Linked DNA regions of Homo sapiens. The protein of the gene in region 2 purifies or fractionates together with the protein of the main gene of each other region. This does not show direct contact. Each region holds a gene or a part of one and is shown on either strand. Other genes may lie near its edges. The genes, in order: RRAS2 and PADI3.

Evidence for each region.
Region 1: the proteins of PADI3 (region 2) and RRAS2 purify together in Homo sapiens (affinity purification with mass spectrometry; one large-scale study listed by BioGRID and IntAct). This does not show direct contact.

Annotation. Positions count from the first base shown.
Region 1 is NC_000011.10:14,352,394-14,356,211, forward strand, and holds part of RRAS2 (ras-related protein R-Ras2), read right to left. Parts: intron 1-3,818. UniProt on the Homo sapiens protein: GTP-binding protein with GTPase activity, involved in the regulation of MAPK signaling pathway and thereby controlling multiple cellular processes. Regulates craniofacial development.
Region 2 is NC_000001.11:17,266,081-17,269,898, reverse strand, and holds part of PADI3 (protein-arginine deiminase type-3), read right to left. Parts: exon of another isoform or gene 3,603-3,818; intron 3,181-3,602; coding exon 3,063-3,180; intron 2,063-3,062; coding exon 1,937-2,062; intron 1-1,936. UniProt on the Homo sapiens protein: Catalyzes the deimination of arginine residues of proteins.

The DNA.
Region 1 (3,818 bases), on a different chromosome or scaffold from region 2:
GACAATTTATATTTCTTTGCATCTTTGAAACACATTTTTCTTTGCAAAAGAAATAAATCTAAGGCCTACCAACTACAAGTTTAAGTTTCAATCTCAAACAGACTCAGCAGCTCTGCCCAAAGTAATTCAAGATCAAGGCCTTTCAACAAAATTCATGACTATTAACTCCATACTGTCTACACGCAAAGTGAAAATCCTTTACTCATTATCACTTTTCATTAAGGAAGGCACGGTGGAATTAATATCCTAAAGACCATTTTCCCCAACCAGAAAAAAAGGCGTGTCAAGTGGCATCACAAAATCTGTTTCAATTTTAAAGACCAACTTTAATTTGAAAAAGAAACTTTTAAAATATATATATATAGAGAGAGAGAGAGAGAGAGAGAGGGAGAGAGAGAGAGAGAGACATTTTTTTTTTTTGAGATATAGTCTTGCTGTGTTGCCCAGGCTGGAGTGCAGTGGCATGATCTCCGCCCACTACAACCCTCCGACTCCCAGGTTCAAGCAGTTCTCCTGCCTCAGCTCCTGAGTAGTAGCTGGGATTGCAGGCGCCCGCCACCACACCCAGCTAATTTTTGTATTTTTAGTAGAGACAGGGTTTCACCATGTTGGCCACGCTGGTCTCAAACTCCTGACTTCAAGTGATCCGCCCGCCTCAGCCTCTCAAAGTGCTGGGATTACAGGCATGAGCCACCGTGCCCAGCTAAAATTTTTTTTAATAGCTTTAAGAAAGTCTCTTCCCACTCTACTCCCCCAATTTAAAGTTATCAATTTATTTTCCTAACTGAATGGAGCAGACTATTTTTATTCAAAGCTTAGGAAAGACCATGATATTTCAGCAATCAGATGAATTAAAATCCCATCCCGGTAAGCAGTAGCCTGTTATCTACCAAGGGAAAGCAGTATTCTTGACCTACTCAACAAAAGTGCTCCCACTCGGCCAGGCATGGTGCAGGCCCAGGCGGGTGGATCACCTGAGGTCAGGAGTTCATGACCACCCTGGCCAACATGGTGAAACTCCACCTCTACTAAAAATACAAAATTAGCTGAGTGTTGTGGCACATGCCTGTCTATAATCCCAGCTACTTGGGAGGCTGAGGCTGGAGAATCGCTTGAACCTAGGATGTGGAGGCTGCAGATAGCCAAGATCACGCCATTGCACCACTGCACTCTAGCCTGAACAAGAGCGAAACTTCGTCTCAAAAAAAAAAAAAAAGTGTCCCCACTCAATTCCTACAACTTCCTTATCCCAAAACAGGGGTACGCATGCACACAAACACACACACACAGAGACAGACACAAAGAGAAAGAGAATGAACAAAACAAGAATAAGACGTAAGTTAAGAAACTGCAGGTTAAAATTTCCTTCTTCTCCAAAGGCAGTCATCCTCTATAAGAAAATGTTCTTCCTTGGGTGTACAGAAATTTTATCTAGGAATTGCCTGCAGGACCATTTCAACTGTTCCCCAAACAAGAAAACCTTTAGTATGGTACCACTTTGGGGGCAGGTGTCTTATTTCTCAATGCTAACAATTCATTTGTACATTAATGTTAAAAAAGTTTAAACACTAAAAATGTCTAGTTTCAAAATAATAGATAAAAGTTAACAGTTTAAGTAGTTTCTAATTGCAGGAAAAATCTTCGAGATGTAGCAATGGAACAGCAAATTGGGAATTTAAACTCACAACCTTCACATGTGGATCAATTAACTATTAACACAAATCTCCTGAAATCTCTTCTCGGCTCTCTGCCCCAGGAAAAAGCAATGAAAAAGTACTCAGCAAAAGACAAACTTTTAAAAAGCAATGCTGGGTCCAGACTAACAGGTCATAGGACTGACTGAAATTCAAGACGTGAGAAATCAGCTAACCCCTACCTACCTCAAAATCTGGCAAATTGTTGAATAAAAAGTTAATATGCTAAAAAAAATATATAAACCTCCCTGTAAATTTTTAAAACATATATGGCCTTTTCTCAGAGTTACCAGATAAAGCACTAACCCCAAAATTAAATGCTTACCTCATTATTTCTTAAAATTAAATCCAAACTGACAAAAAGAAATTTCTCCAACTCAAAACGGAATCCACATTCATCACCTGAATACCACACAGAAGTAAGGAGGGGAGTATAGGGTTGAGCCAGGAAGGAGAGGGCAATGAAGACTTAAAGTAATAGACCAGATTATGTGTCAAAGAAAAATGAAAAAATTACAAATTTTGTTTTGGAGGAACACCAAGATACAGAACTAACAGCAGCAAATAAAACCAAGTAACAATTTCTTTTTTTTTTTTTTTTTTTTTGAGACAAGAGTCTCACTCTGCTGCCCAGGCTGGAGTGCAGTGGCGCAACCTTGACTCACTGCGACCTCCACCTCCCAGGTTCAAGTGATTCTCTTGACTCAGCCTCCCGAGTAACTGGGATTACAAGCACGCACCAACACGCCCGGCTAATTTTTGTATTTTTAGTAGAGGTGGGGTTTCACCATGTTGGCCAGACTGGTCTCAAACTCCTGACCTCAAGTGATCCACCCACCTTGGCCTCCCAAAATGCTGGGATTACAGGTGTGAGCCACCACGCCCAGCCAACAATTCTTATTTGCTTACTCTGTAGATGGCACGGTGCTGGATGATTTACCTGCATTATTTTATTTACTCCAAAAACCCTAAGGGTACTATTATTTAATGTTATTCTCCCTTCTCAAATGGTGAAACTTGGGTTTAGAGAACCTAAGAAACTTGACTAAACACACAGCTAGTTAAATGAATAAAAAAAAAAAAACACTCCTAGAATTTCAAAAGTGCAGAAATTTGTTCAACCAAACCCAACATTTCATGGGGAAGAAAGAGAAGCTCAGTCGAGATAAAGGCAGATTAAGAAACTACTCAAAGTCACCTGGGTAGAGAGACATAGACCCCACACACCCAGCAGTCTCTCCTAACCACTCTGTACCATCCTGAAGTCATTTCCTACCTAGAGTTTACTTAACATTTAGGTGTTCTACCTACCAACAGAACTTTACACATTTTTCAAAGAAATATGAGCAACAGAAAGGAGGAGGTAATGTACACACACATATTCATTAAATAACATAATACTTTACATTTTATCATGGCTACTTTATGATTTGTTATATTTATTTTTAAAAAGGAAAAGGTATCTCAATTTAATTATCTTAGTTCCCTAATTTTGCAACTCTTCATATGAACAGAAGGTAACAACTAAATCTAAGTCAAAGAAAGTTAGGGTAAAAGGCATTGTTTTTAAATTCTCCGTTCCCAATTTTATATTTTTTTCTGCTCAAAATCACATAGTAGAAAATATATATACTGAAAATTGTAAAAACAGTCTGGTGTTTCAGGAGTCTTAAAAAAGTAAGTCCAATTTGTGCCATTCTAATCTCCTACCAAGAGAACTGACTTCTGCTTATTAAAATGATTAGTCTGCTGTGTTCTCTCCCTCCAGTTACTACTGCTAAACAATCATGGTGGAATGAATTTTAACATTCCAGGAGTCAGGCAATGAATAGCTACCCTATTAAGTGTAAATATAAAAAAATCGCTTTAGCTCCATAATCTAAAATTAATATAAAAATGTATGCAGCTTTACTACAGACTGTACTAGACACTGTTCTAAGCCCTTGACATGTTAACTCATTTAATTTCACAGCTATATGTGGTCCACCATATTTCCCCAGTTTACAGATGGGGAAAACTAAGGTACAGAGAAGTTAAGTAACCTGCCTAAAATTACACATGCAGCAAGTGGTAGAGCTGAGACTGCATCCAGGTGGTCGGGTTCCTGTCTCTCCAAAAAGGCTC
Region 2 (3,818 bases):
GTCTGTAATCACAGCACTTTGGGAGACCGAAGGCGGTGGATCACCTGAAGTTAGGAGTTCAAGACCAGCCTGGCTAACATAGTGAAACCCTGTCTCTACTAAAAATACAAAAATTAGCCGGGCGGTGGTGGTGCACACCTATAATCCCAGCTACTCAGGAGGCTTAGGCAGGAGGATTGCTTGAACCCAGGAGGCGGAGGTTGCAGTGAGCCAAGATCACACCACTGCACTCCAGCCTGGGCATGGAGCGAGAATCCATCTCAAAAAAAACCAAAACCAACAAAAAACAAAACAACAACAACAAACAAACAATAATAGGTACAAAGTCACATAATATTTCTGTACAAGAGTGCTCGATATTCATTAATTCATCAAATATTTACTGTGCAACTACAGTGCACCCATGGGGCACGGTTCTGGACTTGAACAAAGCCCCTGACCTCAAGCAACCTGCATTGTTATAAAATCAAAACACTGCAAACCACTATGATGTTCAGAGAACTGTGTAAGTCACAGCACCTCTATGCTTAGGAATATTATACAGCAGTGGAAAAGAATGAAGTAGAGCTCAATAAATACCAGAAAAGGTGTGTGGGATTATTACTTAATGAAAGAAGCCGGTTGGAAAGCAGCATATGGACACACGCTGGAGAACATGTAGAATAAAGTTGGGAAGCACACATCCCAACTCGTTAACAGTGACAATCAGATTCAGGCCAGGTGCGGCGTCTCACGCCTATAATCCTAGTACTTTGAGAGGCCAAAGCGGGTGGATTGCTTGAGCCCAGGAGTTCACGACCAGCCTGGGCAGCATGGTGAAACCCTGTCTTTACAAAAAAAAAAAAATTAGCAGGGTGTGGTGGTACATGCCTGTAGTCCCAGCTACTCGTGAGGCTAAGGTGGAAGGATTGCTTGAGCCTGAAAGGTGGAGGCTGCAGTGAGCTGAGATCATGCCACTGCACTCCAGCCCGGGCAACAGAGCAAGACCTTGACTCAAAAAAAAAAAAAAAAAGTCAGATTTAGAGACGGGTAGAGAACTCTCAGGTTTCATTTTCTATACTTCCATATTGTCTGATTATTTAAAAAATAAGCGGCCAGGCACGGTGGCTCACGCCTATAATCCCAGCACTTTGGGAGGCCGAGGCGGGCAGATCACAAGGTCAGGAGATTGAGACCATCCTGGCTAAGACAATGAAACCCTGTCTCTACTAAAAATACAAAAAATTAGCTGGGTGTGGTGGCACATGCCTGCAGTCACAGCTACTTGGGAGGCTGAGGCAGGAGAATCGCCAGAACCCAGGAGGTGGAGGTTGCAGTGACCCGAGGTCACGCCACTGTACTCCAGCCTGAGCAACAGAGCGAGACTCTGTCTCAAAAAAAAAAAAAAAAAAAAAAAAAAAGCATCTTATTACTTGTATACATTTTTAGTTTCTCAAAGGCATTTAGATTTTTACTTGTATTTCTTGTGATTTTGGCAGACTATGTAAAACAACAGCCATCTATATTTGGGGGGAATACAAACTGAATTAATTGGGTGAAATCTATGGTGTTTGGGGTTGGTTTTACAAAACTTCAGCGAGACAGACAAAACAGTGATAATTGTTTAATCTGAGTGACAGGCACATGGGGATTCACAGCACTGCTTTTTGTGTATGTTTGAAATTTTTGATAAGAATTTCTACACATGCTTAAAATGTATTTGAAAAGGTCATTCATCAAATAAAATGACCTCAGGCCAGGTGTTGTGCTGGGGGCACCAGTTCATCAGTTCCAAAGCCCCCACTTCTGACTGTTCTTACTGCGACCCGCCACCCACCAGGGCATCTCCCGGAGTGTAAGCAGGACCTGCCCATGGCCCAAGGCAGGAACAGGAGGTTCCCTGGTAGGCAACCTGGCAACAGGGCACAGATGGCAAGGGGCAGTGGCACAAACTCACCGCAGATGTGGAAGACCTGTGCCCGTTTGGCATCATAGCTGGAGGTATGGAGGACAAGTTTGTGGTCATCAAAGAGGGCTGCAGGGCCCTGCGTCCGCAGGACCATGACAGACATGTCTTCCAGGTCTGTGAAGCCAGACAGAGTGGTAGTGACTCAAGGGAGTCCTGGCCCCTGGCCCCTTCCTCTGCTGCCCAGCTCCCTCCCCAGGTCAGTGGGTATCAAGACCTGGGTCTCCCAGCCCTAGCTTTGTGAAAACCCTGGAAGCCATCAAGAACAAACCATGAAGACATCTATGCTCTCCTGGACTCATGTTTCCTCAATTGCCCAGAGAAACATGAAGTGTGGCATAGCCAGCTGGTGTCTGACACACAACAGGTGCTCCAGAGAAGCAAGGAGGGTAAGGCCATGTGGGCGTCGTGCAGGTAAGGGTTCTGGCCTCCATCCCAGCATCACTCCCTGTGACCCTGGACAAGCCCCTCCCTTCTGGAGCCCCAGCATCCCCATGTCCAATGGTGCCCACTTCAGAAGGCAACCGTGGGCATCTCCCGTGGACAGCACCTAGCATACCCTGGAATATTGCAGCTCATTCTCCATGGGGCTGGAATTCAGGACAGATGGACTTAGCAAGAGGTGGGGGAGTCACAGAAATGTAGGCCAGAGGTGCTGAAGGAGGAGGCCCAGATTTGGGGTTGAGAGGGGAGGCCCCAGATCAGACACAGTCTTCAGGGAGTCTCCTGGCTTCTGAGTCTCAGCATCCTCATCTCTAAATTGGGGTGATGATATTGTCCCACTTGGATGATTCAATGAGAATTTGGGGAAAAGGCCTGGCACACAGTAGGTGCTCAAATAATGCTAGCATCCTCTGCTCCCCTGGAGGAAGAGAATGGCGAGGTGGCTCATTTCCAGAGCTTCTGCCCTGGCATGTGAGTGCTCACTGGCCCTAGAGACACTAGGGAGGGGCAGCTGCCAGCCTGAGATGGGTTTTGAGGAGCATCGAGGTGTGTCTGGAGGCTGGCGCTCTCCCCTGGACTCTGGCCTCAGAGTCTCGCCTGTGGGTTGGAACTCCCATGGGGTAACTGAGCAGTGACCCTGGACACCCAGGGACTCAGGCTGCCCCGGCCTCACCTTGCAGGCAGTGCACGTGCTGGTCACAATTGTCCTGGACATCACAGCTCGGATCATCACGGTCACAGTTCACCAGCAAGATGCCGCCATACCCACTGGGCCCCCAGACCCACTGCCGCTGCCAATGACAAAACATAGCCAGTGATGAGGGCTCAGATGAGACCTGTGCCTCCCTACCCAGGAACCCGAGCCTGGCCTGTAACCACCCAACCCTGTGAGGCTAGGTCCACGTTCTCGAAGCACCTCCTTCTCAAGACATGTCAATGGCAATGGCTCTCTGTTGCCCACACCATCCAGTCCAAAGCACAGAGCTGTCTTTCATGGCTATCTGTGATGGGCCTTCAGCCAACATCCTCTTTCTCAATAGGCAACCTGATTATAGGACCACACGCCTCACTCTGTGCTCATTCCTCCATTAAACCCTCCTTGGTTTTGCTCCTGCCATTCCCTGCACCTGGAACGTCCTCCCTCCTGCACCCCTTCAGAGCTCAGCTCAAGGGTACGTCCCTCCAGGAAGCCTTCCTCACCCACCCAGCCCACCTCGACCTTCTCCTCTTAACTCCCAGGGCACCAAGTTCCAACATAATTCAGTCCCAAGTTCTTCAACAGTTTCATATTTGGTTTCTCTTCTCGCCTAGGTCAGGATCAGCACATTATGAACTGTGGGCCAAATCTGGCCTACTGCCTGTTTGTATAAATAAAGTTTTATTAGCACACAGTCACATCCATCCATTTCTGTATTAACTGTGGCTGCTT